Linked DNA regions of Homo sapiens: region 2 is linked to region 1. The links come from fine-mapping of genetic effects on plasma protein levels. A gene starts in region 1. The other region holds a variant in brackets. All regions are shown on one strand. Distances are from middle to middle.

What was found. PIP is the posterior inclusion probability: the model's chance that the variant is causal. Protein levels are from antibody-based Olink assays in UK Biobank. Linkage for the fine-mapping came from a reference panel and not from the study's own genotypes, which makes the PIPs less certain.
Region 2: its variant is fine-mapped to the plasma level of the MAVS protein (UK Biobank, PIP above 0.99). The variant lies in the coding sequence of MAVS. If it changes the protein, the assay may bind it differently, which can mimic a change of level.

The regions. Positions count from the first base shown.
Region 1 is chr20:3,842,058-3,850,518 of GRCh38, reverse strand. It overlaps MAVS (mitochondrial antiviral signaling protein), which reads right to left and starts at 3,685. Exons shown (of 7, transcript NM_020746.5): 1 at 3,616-3,685. RefSeq lists silencers at 3,409-3,788, 4,219-4,268, enhancers at 5,630-5,769, 6,758-6,902 and a cis regulatory region at 6,825-6,835.
Region 2 is chr20:3,858,039-3,866,499 of GRCh38, reverse strand. MAVS (mitochondrial antiviral signaling protein) reads right to left here. Exons shown (of 7, transcript NM_020746.5): 4 at 4,996-5,168; 5 at 4,087-4,246; 6 at 1,712-2,244; 7 at 1-817. The coding sequence ends at 353. Among named protein-coding and RNA genes, the nearest start is that of MAVS, 15 kb to the right of the region's middle. RefSeq lists enhancers at 1-488, 8,329-8,461. The variant G/A (reference allele first, on the strand shown) is at 2,218.

The sequences.
Region 1 (8,461 bases):
TCCTGGGTTCAAGCGATTCTCCTGCCTCAGCCTCCCAAGTAGCTGGGATTACAGGCATGAGCCACCACGCCCCGCTAATTTTGTATTTTTAGTAGAGACAGGGTTTCACCATGTTCCGGTCTCGAACTCCCGACCTCAGGTGATCCGCTCACCTCGGCCTCCCAAAGTGCTGAGATTTACAGGCGTGAGCCACCGCGCCCAGCAGCTTAAAAAAATTTCTTTTTTTTTTTTTTTTTTTTTTTTTGAGACAGTCTCGCTCCTTCACCCAGGCTGGAGTGCAGTGGTGCAATCTCGGCTCACTGCAAGCTCCGCCTCCCGGGTTCACACCATTCTCCTGCCTCAGCCTCCCAAGTAGCTGGGACTACAGGCGCCTGCTACCACGCTCGGCTAATTTTTTGTATTTTTAGTAGAGACAGGTTTCACCGTGTTAGCCAGGATGGTCTCGATCTCCTGACCTCGTGATCTGCCCGCCTCGGCCTCCCAAAGTGCTGGGATTACAGGCATGAGCCACCGCGCCCAGCCAGCTTAAAAATTTTTAAGTGCCTCAAATATAAGCAATTGCTGCCAGTTGTTTATGTAGGAGTTACCACAATTTGCAGTTATAGATGTATTTGCTCGTTACTTTTCTGCCGCCCCCATCAGGGAGTGCTGCAGGGAATAAAAGAGACAAGGTCTATGCCACATCCAATTTATATTCTAATGGGGTGGGACAAATAACAGATCAGTAAATTAATACCCAAATAAGAGTTCCAGATAGCAATAAAGGCTCTAAAGAAAGTAAAGCAGGTAATGAGACAGAGCCCCTGGAGACAGGCATGCTACTTGAACTAGGGGGTCAAAGAAGCCTTTCTGAACTAGCGTGCAGAACACAGCTGAGCTGTTCTCAGGCTCTGAGAAGATTGGTGTTTTAGGCAGAGAGCATGGTAAATGCAAAAGTCCTAAAACAAGAATGAGCTTGGCATGTTTGAAGAATAGAAAGCAGGTCAGTGTGGTCTAGGTCAAGAAAGCTAGGGATGGCTGGCTGCGTGACTCACGCCTATAATCCCAGCACTTTGGGAGGCCTAGGCGGGTGGATCACCTGAGCTCAGGAGGTTGAGACCAGCCTCGCCAACATGGTGAAACCCTTTCTCTACTAAAAATACAAAAATTAGCATGGTGGTGGGCGCCTGTAATCCCAGCTACTCGGGAGGCTGAGGCAGGAGAATCGCTTGAACCCAGGAGGCAGAGGTTGCAGTGAGCTGAAATCATCCCATTGCACTCCAGCCTGGGTGACAAGATCAAAACTCCATCATAGGAAAAAAAAAAAAAAAAGCAAGCAAGCTAGGGAAAGGGGCAGAGATTGTCAAGGTCAAGGAGGTGGCAGGGGCCACTCATGTAGAGTGCTGTAGGAAAGGACTCTGGGTTTTAGTTGGAGTGAAACAGGGAACCACTGGAAGGTTCCGGCAGGGAAAGAAGAGGATCTGATTTACATTAAAGACTTCTCTGGTGGTTGTGAGGACTTTGGAGGGGCCAGGATGAAAACTGGGAGACCAGTAAGGAGGCCACAGCCCAGGAGACAGGATGACTATGGTCAGGATGGGAACCACAGAGATGGCAGGAGGCAGCCAGATTCCTGGTGTTTTGAGGGTGTAGGAGATAAGGGAGAGAAAAGAAGCATGACTCCTTGGGCACTGGGTGGATGGAAGGTGCCCTTTTACCAGGCCAGAGAAGCCAGGGGAGGAGCAGTGGCTCAGAAGGGACTCCAGAACTCAGTTCGGAACAAGTGAAGTTTGAGATGCTATTGGATTCCAAGTGGGTTGTCAGGGAGGGAAGGAGGCAGGAGAGGACCAAGTGGGCATCAGGCAGGCATGAGACCTCTCTCAGGAGGCAGTGCTGTAGAGCAGACAGCACCTAAAAGCTGTTGGGCCACCAGACCTTCCTCACAGGGGAAGCAGTCCTGTCACTGGCCTCAGAGCCTCACATGCATGAGTTGCTTTGCCAGCCAGCAGGCCCTGCTACATTCCTCGTGGGGCAAGTACTAATGACAGGTCAGGAGAATCAGGAAGGTGAGGCGGGGGTCCTCTGAGCCTTCAAGAAATTAGCAAAGAACAACTCTATGGGAGTTAATAGATCCCTTTCTCGGCCGGGCGCGGTGGCTCACGCCTGGAATCCCAGCACTTTGGGAGGCCGAGGCAGGCAGATCACTTGAGGTCAGGAGTTTGAGACCAGCCTGGCCAACATGGTGAAACCCCGTCTCTACTAAAAATGCAAAAATTAGCCAGGCATGGTGGCACACACCTGTAGTCCCAGCTACTCAGGAGGCTGAGGCAGGAGAATCTCTAGACCCAGGAGGCAGAGGTTGCAGTGAGCCAAGATTGGACCACTGCGCTCCAGCCTGGGCAAGAGAGTGAGACTCCATTTCAAAAAAAAAAAGACCCCTTTCTCCTTCCTTTCTCATGGCATCAGCCAGGTACCAGAAGGCAGTCAGATGAGGCACTCTTCTGCATTCCAGCTTCAGCCACAGATGGAGGGGAAGGGATGATGTGGCCCAAACAAAAGGAAAGGAAGCCCACATTTGTTCACATTTATGGAGGGCCCATTGTAGACAGGCACATCCTAAGGTTCTTTCAGTTAATCCTTCCCCAATCCCGTGACAGGGAAAGTGTTGCCAAGGTGCACAGCTGGCCAGAGGCTAGCACAGGATTTGAACCCAAAACCTGCTGCCTCACTGCAACTGGTCATACACCTTGCAGGGCACAGAGACCCCTGCAGCGAGACCCACACAGCCACCTGCCTTCAAGCCCAAAGAGGACCCAAGGTCACTTGGCGGGAGGGAGGCTGAGGGTGCACTTAGGTGGAAGCAACATTTAGTCCAGACATTAACCCTGCTTTCACATGGCTGCCACAGGTCCCAGGTCGCTGGCTGTCCTCCTAGATATTTTTGAGGCTTCACGGCTTCCATACAGAGAATCCCTTTTTCGTGTTTTTGGTTTGTTTCATGTTTTCTTGGCACTTCCTTCCCAACTGAGAAGGAAGTAGGTGACAGAGTGTTCCCAATACAGCAAAGTTTCCGACCTGACTGTCCAGAGGCTCTGAGTGCATCCCGGAAATAAACACCCACCCTTCCCAAAGGGACAGGCCTCACAGCCTTGGATCGGATTCCTGGGCGCGACCCAGGTCCGCGGAGGGCGGGGAGGCCGTTTTGAGCTGGTGTCGCCGCCGAGAACTGTCCAGACCCAGCGGAGGGCGGCAGCACTCGACCTCTAGGCGCACCCGGTCGAGGCTCGGCCCCACCTTAGCGTCACCCTGGGCCCGCGGGCGGCAGGAGGAGGTCAGCGGCCGCTGCCCGTCCCCTTCTGGCCCTACCTTTCCCCCAGCCTGAGCAGACGCCCAGCGCCACCTACCCCCTTTTCCCCGGATGCTGGATGCGGCGCCTGGAGCCCTCAGTGTTCCCGAAACTCTTGCGACAGGGCCCGCTCTTCCGGATCCCCGCGCGTCCTGTCCCCTCCTGGGCCCCCCGCGCACCCCAGACCCAGGGCGTCCCGGCGGACTCCGTCCTGCCGCTGCAGCCACCTTCCCTAAAGGCGTCCGTGCGTGCTGAGCCGAAAGGACCCAACGCCCGGGAAGCGATCTTACCTCGGGTACCCCCGGCCCTGAGACCTGGCGACCGCCGCCCGGGGCCCAGGACCCTTCCCGCAGCGAGGAGGCGGGGCGGGCAGAGCGCGCGGCCATTGGCCATGTGGAGGGGCGGGGCTACTCGGCCGCGCGTGGTTGGCTGGCGACGCAGGCGGCTGCGCAGCGGGGACGGTCACTGGGCCTTGGTTTGCGGGTCGGGAAGCGCTAGACTGGGCTCGGAGAACCGACCTGATTTTTTGCTGGGGGCGCGCAGTCTCGAGCAACTTCCAGGGGAAGTCCGGTGTCCGGCCAGAAACCAGGCAGGTGGCCGGCCTCGGAGTCATCGGGGGGCTGAGAATTCCATCCCCACGCTTCCCAAGTGAAGCAGCCCCTCCTCCCCCTGGGAACTTTGAGGGGTGAGGGTCTTCGTGTCGTTCTCTCCGGCACCCCCATGGCCTGGCATACAGTTAGTGCCCAATAAACGTTGGGTGCCGCTGAAGTCACAGGGGCAAGGATGCCTATCCTGGAGACGTGCACGCTGGGCCTGTGGGAGTGGGAGCGGGCGGGGGACTGCTGGGTAGGTAGGCGCAAGGCAGGGACGCCAAGGTTGGCTGGCGGGCAGGCTGGGTATGGGTTGGGTGCTGCGTGGGAGAGGCCTCTTACGCCCAAGGGCCTGGGACAGGTACCTCCCGCAGTTCCTGCCATCTGCCTCGCCCTTCCCCTTCTGGGGCAGAGGCCAGCACTTACTGAGCACCTACGATCTTCCAGGCACAGGGTCTTCTATTCTTTTTTTTTTTTTTTTTTTTTGAGACAGAGTCATGCTCTGTCGCCCAGGCTGGAGTACAATGGCGCGATCTCGGCTCACTGCAACCTCCACCTCCTGGGTTCAAGCAATTCTCCTGCCTCAGCCTCCCAAGTAGCTGAGATTACAGGCACATGCCACTGCGCCCGGCTAATTTTTGTATTTTTAGTAGAGACGGAGTTTCACCATGTTGGCCAGGCTGGTCTCAAACTCCTGACCTCAGGTGATCCTCCCACCTCGGCCTCCCAAAGTGCTGGGATTACAGGCGTGAGCCACTACGCCCAGCCTCAAGTGAGGTTTTATTACTGTACTTTATATCCCTGTGAATATTTCACAACCTTCAGCATTTACAAAGTATGCTTAATCACACCTGAACTGTAATAAAACCAGCTCTGCCTAGTTTAGCCAAGAGGGCATAAATGTTGATTAGTTCAAGAATCAATCCTGCCTGCTCCCCACCGGAGCAGCTCTAGCAGCTTCATATCTAATTCTTTCAGGAAGAACATTGAAAGTGTAGGAGCGGGCTTCCAAGTGCAGCTATCACTCCTGTCTTTGCTGGACCTCAAAGAGCATTCAAACAATCCCACTGCCTGACTAGGTGGTTCCCTGCCACCTATCAACAGCTTTTATAAAGATTTAGACAAAGAAGAACACAACAACATGCTTATGGTATTCCTATCAAAAGCTCATGATCTGAAACTAATCATAGGGAAACAGTAAGCAAACCCAAAACGAGAGACATTTGACAGCTGTCCTATCCAATACAATGGCTACTAGCCACATGTAGCTATTTTAATTAAAATTAAATAATACTTAGAAGCCAGTTCCTGAGACCCACGAGCCACATTTCTCTTTTTTTTTTTTTTTTTTTTTTTTGAAACAGAATCTCACTCTTTCACCCAGGCTGGAGTGCAGTGGCCCAATCTCGGCTCACTGCAACCTCCGCCTCCCGGGTTCAAGTGATTCTCCTGCCTCAGCCTCACGAGTAGCTGGGACTACAGGCGCATGTCACCACGCCCGGCCAATTTTTGTATTTTTAGTAGAGACGAGGTTTCACCATATGGGCCAGGCAGGTCTCAAACTCCTGACCTCAAGTGATCCACCCACCTTGGCCTCCCAAAGTGCTGGGATTACAGGCGTGAGCCACTGCACCTGGCCCATGAGCCACATTTCAAATGCTATTTTCATGTAGCTAATGGCTTCATACTCGGTGACACAGAGCATTTCTATTTTTTTTGTTTGTTTTGTTTTGAGACAGAGTTTCACTCTTGTTGTTGAGGTTGGAGTACAATGGCGTGATCTCGGCTCACCACAACCTCTGCCTCCCAGGTTCAAGCGATTCTCCTGCCTCAGCCTCCCGAGTAGCTGGGATTATAGGCATGCACCACCATGCCCAGCTAATTTTGCATTTTTAGTAGACACGGGGTTTCTCCACCTTGGCCAGGTTGGTCTCAAACTCCCGACCTCAGGTGATCTGCCTGCCTCAGCCTCCCAAAGTTCTGGGATTACAGGTGTGAGCCACAGCGTCAGGCCCAAACAGAGCATTTCTATCATCACTGAAAGTTCTATTGGATAGCACTGCTCTGCAGAATAACTCTTCAAAAATTTCAAGGTCAGGAAAAACAAGGAGACTGAGAGACTGCTCCAGAGAAAAGGACACCAAAGTGACATGACAACTGAATGCAATATGGGAACCTGGGTTGGATCCTGAAACAGAAAAAGGACTTCAGGTGAAATCCAAATAAGGCTTTTGGATCAGTTAACAATAATCTAGCTGGGCATGGTGGCTCACGCCTCTAATTCCAGCACTTTGGGACGCCGAGGTGGGTGGATCACCTGAGGTCAGGAGTTTGAAACCAGCCTGGACAACATGGTGAAACCCTGTCTCTACTAAAAATACAAAAATCAGCCAGGCATGGTGGTGGGCACCTGCAATCCCAGCTACTCAGGAGGCTGAGGTAGGAGAATCGCTTGAACCCGGGAGGCAGAGGCGGCAGTGAGCCGAGATCGCACCATTGCACTCCAGCTTGGGCAACAACAGTGAAACTCTGTCTCAAATTAACAACAACAACAACAATCTGTCAGTGTTAGGATCATTGTACTGGGTTATGTAAGATGTAAACATTTGCATTATTTTTGCAACTATGTTGTAAATCTGAAATTATTTCAAAAATATAAAGTAAAATAAATCATCTTTTGACCCTATCTGGCTATTTATATTATCTTTTATTTCTTATTGCATCCCACCCTATTTCATGGGTGTAATTCATTGATCACTGTCCATTTATTAGGAGAAGAGCAAGTCCAGAGAGTGATCTATGCTCTAGGCTGCCCCCAGTGAGGGCCTTGGAGCTGCCCCCTGCCCAGTAAAGTTCAGCACAGACAGGCCCATCTCCAGGCCTCCGAGGGAGGCTGTGACCCACCCATGATGACTCAGCACCCACCAGCTCACGTCACCCCCTGGAGAGCAGAGGTCAGGCGCAAAGACAGTGCCAGAGGGCTCCAAACTCGGTTATGTTCTCCGGTCTGAGCCCTTGAGGGAACTATGACTAAAAAACATAATCCCCTCCTTTATGACTTCATTTTGAATAGTATTTTAAACAGTTATTCTTTATGTTTTATTTATTTATTTTTAAAATAAAACAGACACAGTCTTGCTACATTGCTCTGGTTGGTCTTGAACTCCTGGGCTCAAGCAATCCTTCCATCTAAGCCTCCGAAGTAGCTAGGACCACAGGCACACTCCACTGCACTTAAACAGATATTCTTTATACTATTTTAATTTTTTCATTCTTTCAACTTAATTTACCAAAAATATATACTGTTTACAGCTAATGTGGGGAAAACAGAAATATTTGATGATGAAAACCAAAATCCATATTCATAATGCCACCATCTACAAAAATTAGCCAGTCATGGTGGCACACATCTGTAATCCCAGCTACTCAGGAGACTAAGGCAGGAGAATTGCCTGAACCCAGGAAACGGAGGTTACAGTGAGCCAAGATCATGCCACTGCACTCCAGCCTGGGCGACAGAGTGACTCCATCTCAAAAAAAATACTACTAATAATAATAATGCCACCATCCAGGGGTGACTGCTGGTGACGCTCCAGTGTCTTTTCTAGTATTTTTTTTTTTTCCTACAATACAGAGTCTCCAAGTCCTCTGACTTCCTGGGGTTATCCTTGCCTTGACCAGCCATGTAAGATGGTTCTGGTTCTAGCCATGATGTGGGACGTAATAGGGTCTGGCATGAGCCTGCCTTACCTCTCAGGGGTCTCAGGAGGAGGGGGCTTGGCTCACTTCAGCTCCTGGGTCAGTCGCTGCTACAGCCAGCTCCTCCTCTGGGACTGTGGTTGGCATAGCCCTTTCATCAGGCCTCAGGACACTGTGTGGCTCGTCACCTGCCGCTGACACAATACAGTGTGCTTAATCACATCTGAACTGTAATAAAACCAACTCTGCCTAGTTTAGCCAAGAGGGCATAAATGTTGATTAGTTCAAGAATCAATCCAGCCCTGCCTGGGCTCTTGCGGCTTCATATCTAATTGTTTCAGGAAGAACAATTGAAAGTGTGGGAGCCATAAGATTAGGCACACTTAATTGTATTGCTGCTTGGCAAGGACATGCCTTGAGAGTTAGATATCAGAGTTCCTAAAATTCACAGGCCTCCCCCAACACAGGGGACTTCTCCCTGGTCACGTCCCTCCACGCTCCCAGCTTCTGGTGCCCTGCTTGCTCTCAGCCCCTCTTGCTGTCTCTTGTCCTAGGGCTCCTCTCCCAAAATCAGATATTCAGTGCAGGAAACAGATGTCACCCTAGGTGTTTTGTGCATGGAAGGGTTTTGTTTCTTGAAGCACAGTTTACATTCAGTGAAATATATCAAACTTAAGTGTATGACTTGACTCTTTTTTTTTTTTTTTTTTTTGAGACGGAGTCTCACTCTGTCACCAGGCTGGAGTACAGTGGCATGATCTTGGCTCACTGCAACCTCCAACTCCCTGGTTCAAGCGATTCTCCTGCCCCAGCCTCCTGAGTAGCTGGGATTACAGGCATGCTCCAC
Region 2 (8,461 bases), 16 kb before region 1:
TGGTCCCTCCTGCTCCACCTGGGCCAACAGGGCTGAGGCCTGGAGGAGGAAGCTCCTCTGGAGGACATGGATGATAACCTGGATTGCCAGTGGGGAAGGTCTGGAGCACTGGGGGCAGCCCAGGACCCAGAAAGCCAAGGACGGGGACCCACACAAGGCACCGTGGGGACAGAGATGCTGCTCTCAGGACTTGGTTCAGCCAAGGCATGTCCTGCTGCCAGGCCTGCAGTCCCTTAACTCCCCTCTGACCCAGCCTCCACAATCCCCAAGAAAGGGACAAGGGGCTTCGGAGAGGGGCCAGGTGTACTGCAGGAACGGAACAGATGGGTGGTGGGAAGAGCCCAGGGCTTCACTAGTGCAGACGCCGCCGGTACAGCACCACCAGGAGTGTGACTACCAGCACCCCTGTCACAGCCACCTGGAGCCACAGAGCCCCAGGTGAGGGCCTGTGGCATGGCACCTCCCTCTCCTGGAACTTCCGGTCGGCTTGTGGCCTGGGGCCGCCATCCGGGTCCGCAGGTGGCCCAGGGTTGCCCTCCAGGAGCTGGATGCTGGGGTTCTCAGCCACGTGGATCCCAAAGGTGCCCTCGGACTTATACTCATTCTCCTCTGGGCCATGGCAGGGCCCCATGCCCAAGGAGGTGCTGGCACTGATGGCAAGATCCTCGAAGCAGCCCGAGAACGGGCTGTCTACCTGGGATGCCAGCACGCCAGGCTTACTCAGCTCCGACCCAAGGCCCCTATTCTCAGAGCTGCTGTCTAGCCAGGCTGAGCTGCCTCCAGTGGCGCCGGCGGGTGTTGGAGCTGCTGGGGTCTCCTGGGAAAGAAAGGAGAGCACTGGAAGGGACTGGGGTTGGCAGGGAGACGAACCTGGTAGGGCGGTCCCATTCCCAGGCCAGGGCATGAACTAACACTCCAACCCCTCAATTCCCAATCTATAATGCCCCTAGGCCACCTTTTCTTGGAGCAGTGGGGGTAGAGGGGACCAAGAATCTGCACCAATGGTGGCCTCCTCCAGGGCAGCCTTTCCCTACTCCCTGGCCTGCCTGTGAGCTCATGCCCACCTGGAAGCCTTTGGTAGGGCGGGGCTCCATCCTGCACTGACATCCTGCCTGGGCCTGAGAACTAGAGAGCAGCCACAGGGTCAGAGGCCTGGCCATGTGCCCAAAGGGCCCTATGGACTTGGCTCTTCCCAGCAGACAGCCGCAGCTAGGGTTAGATGTGAGGCTTGGAGCAGGCAACAATGGGGGGCTGCTGGGTCCGAGTGGCTGCTCCAGGTGGGACTGCGTTCTGTAAAGCCTGGCCATGGAGGGACACACCAGGCATCCTGGTGAAGAGCAAGGCAAGAGGCAGATGGGCCACTGTGCTGTCCCCGTCACTGCTTCCTTATGTGCAAAACGGCACCGCTCGGCTTCACTAGGAACTACGAGCCCTAAATGAACTTATACACCTGACCAGTGGGTGCCCCCTGTGGCTGACCCTCCTGAGGTGTCCAGACTTAGAAGCTCAATGACTGTTCCTCCTGGAGAACATGGTGTGGGGCCTGCATGAGGCTGGTTCTCAACTGTCTGTATGCCCTCAAGGAGAGGCCACAGAGCAGCACAGGCTGGACACAGAATGCAGACTGGGAAGGGGCCAAGGCCAGGGCCAGGTGGGCAAGCTGTCCCGGGGGAAGGGGCCAGGATCCCTGCCAGGAAGGGCGAGGACTCACCTCATTTCTGCTGCTCCCGTCAGTGGGGACTGTGCTGGCAGACACCTTGGTGAGCACCATGCTAGTAGGCACTTTGGATGGCACCATGCCAGCACGGGTTGAGTTGATGGGCAATTTGGATGGTGCTGGATTGGTGAGCGCATTAGAAGGCACTGCACCAGGGGGCTTTGAGCTAGTTGGCAACTTGGAGGGCACTGTGCTGACAGATGCTGGGTTGGCAGGCACTTTCAGGGCCACTGTGTTCACAGGCATCAAGGTGGTAGGCACTTTGGAGGGCAGAGAGTTGGCAGGTGCCTCTGCCCCACTGGAGCAGATGATAGGCTCGGCCTGGTCACTCTCTGCACCCTGTTTACCCTCTGCAGCCCCTGCAGAGGCCAAGCCAGGGGATGAGGAGGAGAAGGAGGTGCCAGTAGATACAACTGACCCTGTGGGTCCAGGCAAGCGGCTTGCCCTGGGGGTGGAACGGGCCAGGGGCTGGAAGGAGACAGATGGAGACACAGGCCCAC[G/A]GGATGGTGTGAGGCTGGAGGTCGCACCTGCCGGTGGAAAAACACAAGTGGAAACACAGACCCAAAGACCATTACCTTGAGGCCTGGAGAAGGGTCCCTCTGGCCCAGATCTCATGGTCCCTACTGTGTCTAGGCCTCCAAATCTCCTGCCCTTGGAGGAGATGCCACAGTCCCTTTGGTCACTGCTTCCTGGCCTGAAAGCCCAACAGCTGCCCTCAGTCCTTGACCTGTAGCCCCAGGTCTGTCCTGGCACACAGTGAAATGGTACCTAGGAGCCTGAAGACCATTATTAATTATTCTCTCCGCTTTTTCCTCTCCCACCTGGGAAACCTCCCCTCTCCTGTGTCTACCTTTTCTACTTTGACCTTAGCCTCATGCAATCCTGGACACTTCCCCCACTGCTGTCCCTCTCCTACCACCATGAGTGGGAGCAGCCATGGATCAGGGCAAGGGGTGGCAGGATGGCTCATGCAGAACAGCTCACACCAGCCGAGAGGCCTGGCCATCCCGGAGGCTTGGGAAGAGAGGGGACAAGGACAAAGCCACCCCTGGGAGGCTGCCTGACCTGGGTGGGGGAAGCAGAGGATAGCAGGTGGTGATGGTCTGTAAAGGCAGTTGCAGCAGGACTCTCCACGGAACTCGGAATGCACATGCCAAGCCCCACAGCTGGCAAAAGTCAGGGTGATTCTGATGTACAGCTCCCCCACCACAATCTAATACCACAGAATCTCATGGGACCTGTGTCTACAAACGTACTGAAACCTAAGCGCCCTCTGCCTCTGTGGTCTACAGCAACTCCTGAAAGGCATCCCGTGGCCAGGTGACACTGCAAAGCAGACAGGTGCTTGGAGCAGTTTGGGGATGACAAAAGTACTAAGATGACGTCTCCCAGCCTCTAACTGCTCATGTGTCTTGTGGCTGTCCCAGGGCACTGAGGGCTGACTGGGCACCAGCGTCATGTGGAATAGTTTGGGAAGTAGGAAAGAGACATGCTGGCCTGAGAGGTCCAGATGGACAACTATATATTTCTGAGGGGGAGCACTGACATCTGGAGTTGAGTCCAGGCCACTGGATGATGAAGACCTTACTTCCTCTGGGGACTGAGAAGTTTTCATGATTCACTGGGAACTGGAGATCTCTGCGGTAAGACAGTGCCTAAAGGTTCCCCTGCCAACAGCTGATGCAGCCCTTCACTGTCCCTCTCCCACTGCCCTATAGGCCCTGGCTGTTCCCTACAGTCCCTTTGGCAGAGCGCAAAAATGGCCCTACTTATCTCGCTCATCTCCACCCAGCCCCACTGCACTGTGCCTGTCAGTCCTCCCGTCTAGGGAGGGAGTCTATTTCCCTACTCCTTGAATCTAGGCTGGCCTTATAACTTGCTTTTGCCCACAGAATGGAGCACAGGGGACACTGTGCCAGTTTTGAGCCCTCTCTGAGAACTCTGCCCAGCTGCCATGATGGGTTTGTGTGCTGGAGGATGAGAGACTACATAGAAGAGAACCAAGGTGCTCAGCAAACAGCCAGAGGCAGAACTTATGTATATACCGGTGAGTACTTGAGAGGAAATTCAGCCAAGACCAGAAGAAATGCCCATGTAGGTAGCCCAAATGCCTGACCCACAGGATCATATGCTAAATAAATGGCTGTATTTTAAGCTACTAAAAAAAAAATTTGGAAAACTGGAGTGGACTATTTGTTACACAGCAAATGCTAACTGATACACCCACTAAGGAACTGGTTTGCTTCCTGGGTTGAACTCCCTTTATTCCCACCTTGTCTCCTGTTCAAGGAAGCCAGATGGGGCAACTCTAATTCTTACCCTCACTTGAGAGATCAGAAGGACCCTATAATTCCAGATTCCATGCATACCTGCTGTGTGGGTACTGCCCAGTTCTGTGTCCTGCTCCTGATGCCCGCTGGAGGTCAGAGGGCTGAGGGCTGCCAGGTCAGAGGAGGACTCCAGGGGGCCACCATCTGGATTCCTTGGGATGGCTCTGGGGCTGAGCGTCTGCAGGGCTTGCTCTGAATTCTGCAATGAGGGAAAATATGAATAAGGCAGTTGCCTCTCCCAAGAGCTCACAAAGGGCAGCTTGTGCTCTTGGGGCATCTCCTATAGGCCTCAGCCCACACCATGGAGCACAGGAGCCAGGGGAGCCCTTGCCTGGGTTCTGGTAATTCCCAGACCCTCTGTCCACAGGTGTCCTTACGTCTACCTCACAGAAAACACACAGCATTGCCAGGTGCGGTGGCTCACGCCTGTAATCCCAGCACTTTGGGAGGCAAAGGTGGGCAGATCACCTGAGGTCAGGAGTTCGAGACCAGCCTGGCTGACACGGCAAAACCCCATCTCTACTAAAAATACAAAAATTAGCTGGGCGTGGTGGTGGGTGCCTGTAATCCCAGCTACTCAGGAGGCTGAGGCAGGAGAATGACCTGAACCCAGGAGGCAGAGGTTGCAGTGAGCCAAGATCACTCCACTGCACTCCAGCCTGGGTGACAGAATGAGACACTGTCACACACACACACACACACACACACAAAACTGTGGTCTCCCAGCTGGTTGCTGACAGAGGATTAGGGCTGCCACAGGGTGAAGACCTGGTCAGCAGCCTGGAAGCTGGTCTGGGGCAGATCCCCACTGAGGAAGCCCTAGGGTTCTGAGCAGAGATTAGGCGTGATTTATAGGGGACGGGAGAGGGTTTCTGGAAGGCTCAATGGGCAGAAGTGGGCAGATAGGAACACAAAAGTGGTGGCTCAAGGTAGACTATGAGGACAGACCTCTCCTGGGGACTCTGGCGCCTGGGTCTCCTGGACAGGCATGGGGTAACTTGGCTCCTTCTCTCTGCAGCTGTTGTAGGGGATGCTGTGGGCCGCAGCAGGTGTGGGGGGCCCTGGCCTCTCAGCAGGAAGTGACGGTGGCTCCAGTGGGTCTGGGGGACGGTCCGAGGTCCCTAGAGGACAAAGATGTAGTGATATCAAGAAGGAATCAGGGCTGGGCACAGTGGCTCATGCCTGTAATCTCAGCACTTTGGGAGGCCAAGGCAGGCAGATCACGAGGTCAGATCGAGACCACCCTGGCTAACACAGTGAAACCCCATCTCTACTAAAAATACAACATTATTATTAGCCGGGCATGGTGGCGGGCCCCTGTAGTCCCAGCTACTCAGGAGGCTGAGGCAGGAGAATGGCGTGAACCCGGGAGGCGGAGCTTGCAGTAAGCCAAGATCGCGCCACTGCACTCCAGCCTGGGCGACAGAGCGAGACTCCGTCTAAAAAAAAAAAGAAAGAAAAAAAAAGAAGGAATCAGGGGCTGGGCACGATGGCTCATGCCTGTAATCCCAGGATTTGGGGAGGCCAAGGCAGGTGGATTAGGAGGTCAGGAGTTCAAGACCAGCCTGGCCAACATAGTGAAACCCCGTCTCTACTAAAAATACAAAAATTAGCCAGGCGTGCTGGCAAGCACCTGTAATCCCAGCTACTCAGGAGGCTGAGGCAGAAGAATTGCTTGAACCTGGGAGACGGAGGTTGCAGTGAGCTGAGATCGCGCCACTGCACTCCAGCCTGGGCAACAGAGCAAGACTCCGTCTCGGGGGAAAAAAAGAAAAAGAAGCCAGACGTGGTGGCTCACGCCTGTAATCCCAGCACTTTGGGAGGCCGAAGTGGGTGGATCACCTGAGGTCGTGAGTTCGAGACCAGCCTGACCAACATGGAGAAACCCTGTCTCTACTAAAAATAACAAAATTAGCCAGGCGTGGAGGCGCATGCCTGTAATCCCAGCTACTCGAGAGGCTGAGGCAGGAGAATTGCTTGAACCTGGGAAGTGAAGGTTGCCATGACCTGAGATTGCACCATTGCACTCCAGCCTGGGCAACAAGAGCGAGACTCCGTCTCAAAAAAAAAAAAAAAAAATAGAAGGAATCAGGGACTATAGGGAGGCTGAGGAAGGAGAACCACTTGAACCCGGGAGGCAGAGGTTGTGGTGAGCCGAAGTCATGCCACTGCACTCCAGCCTGGGCGACTGAGCAAGACTCTGTCTCAAAAAAAAAGGAATTGGGGGTTCTCCTCATGATTAAAGAGGCTTGGGTGCTCTTGGGTACACCCCCCGCCCCACCCATAGGTCCAAAAGCTGTTCTGATGTGGGCCCACTCCTCAAGAGTGACAAGCAGGGCTGGGCTTGGTGGCTCACGCCTGTAATCCCAGCACTTTGGGAGGCCGAGGCGGGTGGATCACGAGGTCAGGAGATCGAGACCATCCTGGCTAACACGGTGAAACCCCATCTCTACTAAAAAATACAAAAAGTTAGCCGGGCATGGTTGCAGGCGCCTGTAGTCCCAGCTACTCGGGAGGCTGAGGCAGGAGAATGGCGTGAACCCGGGAGGCGGAGCTTGCAGTGAGCTGAGATGGCACCACTGCACTCCAGCCTGGGCGACAGAGCGAAACTCCATTTCAAAAAAAAAAGGAGTGACAAGCATCACTTGGCAAGGGGGCAGGAGTGGGAGGGTGAGAGCAGATGGAGGACAAGGTAGCAAGGGAGGAAGGGGAGTATGGGGGGGCCTCGTGGGTCTCTAGTCACCCACGCCGTGTCAGCAGTCACTCTTCTCTGTCCCCAGGCATCCTAGGACCCAGTGGCTTTCTCCTCCACATGACTATCATTGCTCACTGACCCCTGCCCTGATGCTGCCACCTGAGCCCCTCCCCTTTGCCCCCACCCCTCATCAGGCCCTACCACAGCCATTGTATTCAGGGGATCACTATTTTTGGGTTTTTTTTTTTTGGAGACGGAGTCTCACTCTGTCATCCAGGCTGGAGTGCAGTGGCGCAATCTCGGCTCACTGCAACCTCCACCTCCCCGGTTCAAGCAATTCTCCTGCCTCAGCCTCCCAAGTAGCTGGGATTACAGGCTTGCACCACCATGCGCAGCTAATTTTTTTGTATTTTTGGTACAGACAGGGTTTCACCATATTGGCCAGGCTGGTCTCGAACTCCTGACCTTGTGATCCGCCCGCCTCGGCCTCCCAAAGTGCTGGGATTACAGGCGTGAGCCACCGTGCCCAGCCAGGGATCACTATTAATCTCCACACATGAAGAGACATATTTAAAAAGAAGGAAGGAAAAAAAGGAAGGAAGAGAGGAAGGGAGGGAGGGAGGGAGGAAAAGCAAGGAAGGGAAAAAGGAGAGAAAAGCAAGCATGAGAGCCAGACGCGGTGGCTCACACCTATGATCCCAGCACTCTGGGAGGCCGATCGCTTCAGCCCAGGAGTTTGAGACCAGCCTGGGCAACATAGTGAGATGTCATCTCTACAAAAAATTTAAAAATTAGCCAGGTGTAGTTGTCCATGCCTGTAGTCCCAGCTACTCTGGAGGCTGAGGTAGAAGGATCACTTGAGTCCAGGAGGTCAAGGCTGCAGTGAGCTATGATTGCACCACTGCACTGCAGCCTGGGTGGCGCAGCAAGACTCTGTCTCTAAAAGGAAAAAAAAAAAAGAGAGAGAAAGAAAAGAAAAACATGGATGTCCCACAGCTATAAATGTGACCAGGGTCTCGGGGGTTACCTCTAGTTTGAAATATAAATAGGGCTGGCTTGATTTTTTTTCCCATGTCTTTTTTTTTTTTTTTTTGAGATGGAATCCCACTCTGTCGCCCAGGCTGGAGTGCAGTGGCGCGATCTCAGCTCACTGCAACCTCTGCCTCCCTGGTTCAAGTGATTCTCCTGCCTCGGCCTCCTGAGTAGCTGGGACAACATGCCCGGCTAATTTTCTGTATTTTTAGTAGAGACGGGGTTTCACTGTTTTAGCCAGGGTGGTCTCCATCTCCTGACCTCATGATCCGCCTGCCTCGGCCTCCCAAAGTGCTGGGATTACAGGTGTGAAACACCGCGCCCAGCCTCCTCCCATGTCTTGATCTCACTCAGGATCAAACTCAATCTCATCAAATCGCCTCCGAGCACTCAGAGTGGCAGGGACACTGAGAGGGACTTAAAGAATAACTGGGCAGCTGATAGAGGGCGTCGAAGGCTCTCAGGGTAAACCAGGGGAGGGGAAGAGAAGGAGGAGAGAGGGAGGGTGAATGAGTAGGTGGGGGAGAAGAAATGAGGAAGGGTGGGAGGCGAATGCTACAGCCGTGAAAGTTAGGGGAGACTCCATGTGCTGGGCATACAGGAAGTGCCCAGCCCAGCTCAATACTCAACACGCATCGTCCCGCAGTATCACCCACTGCAGCTCCCCGCGGCAGATGCTGCCATGAG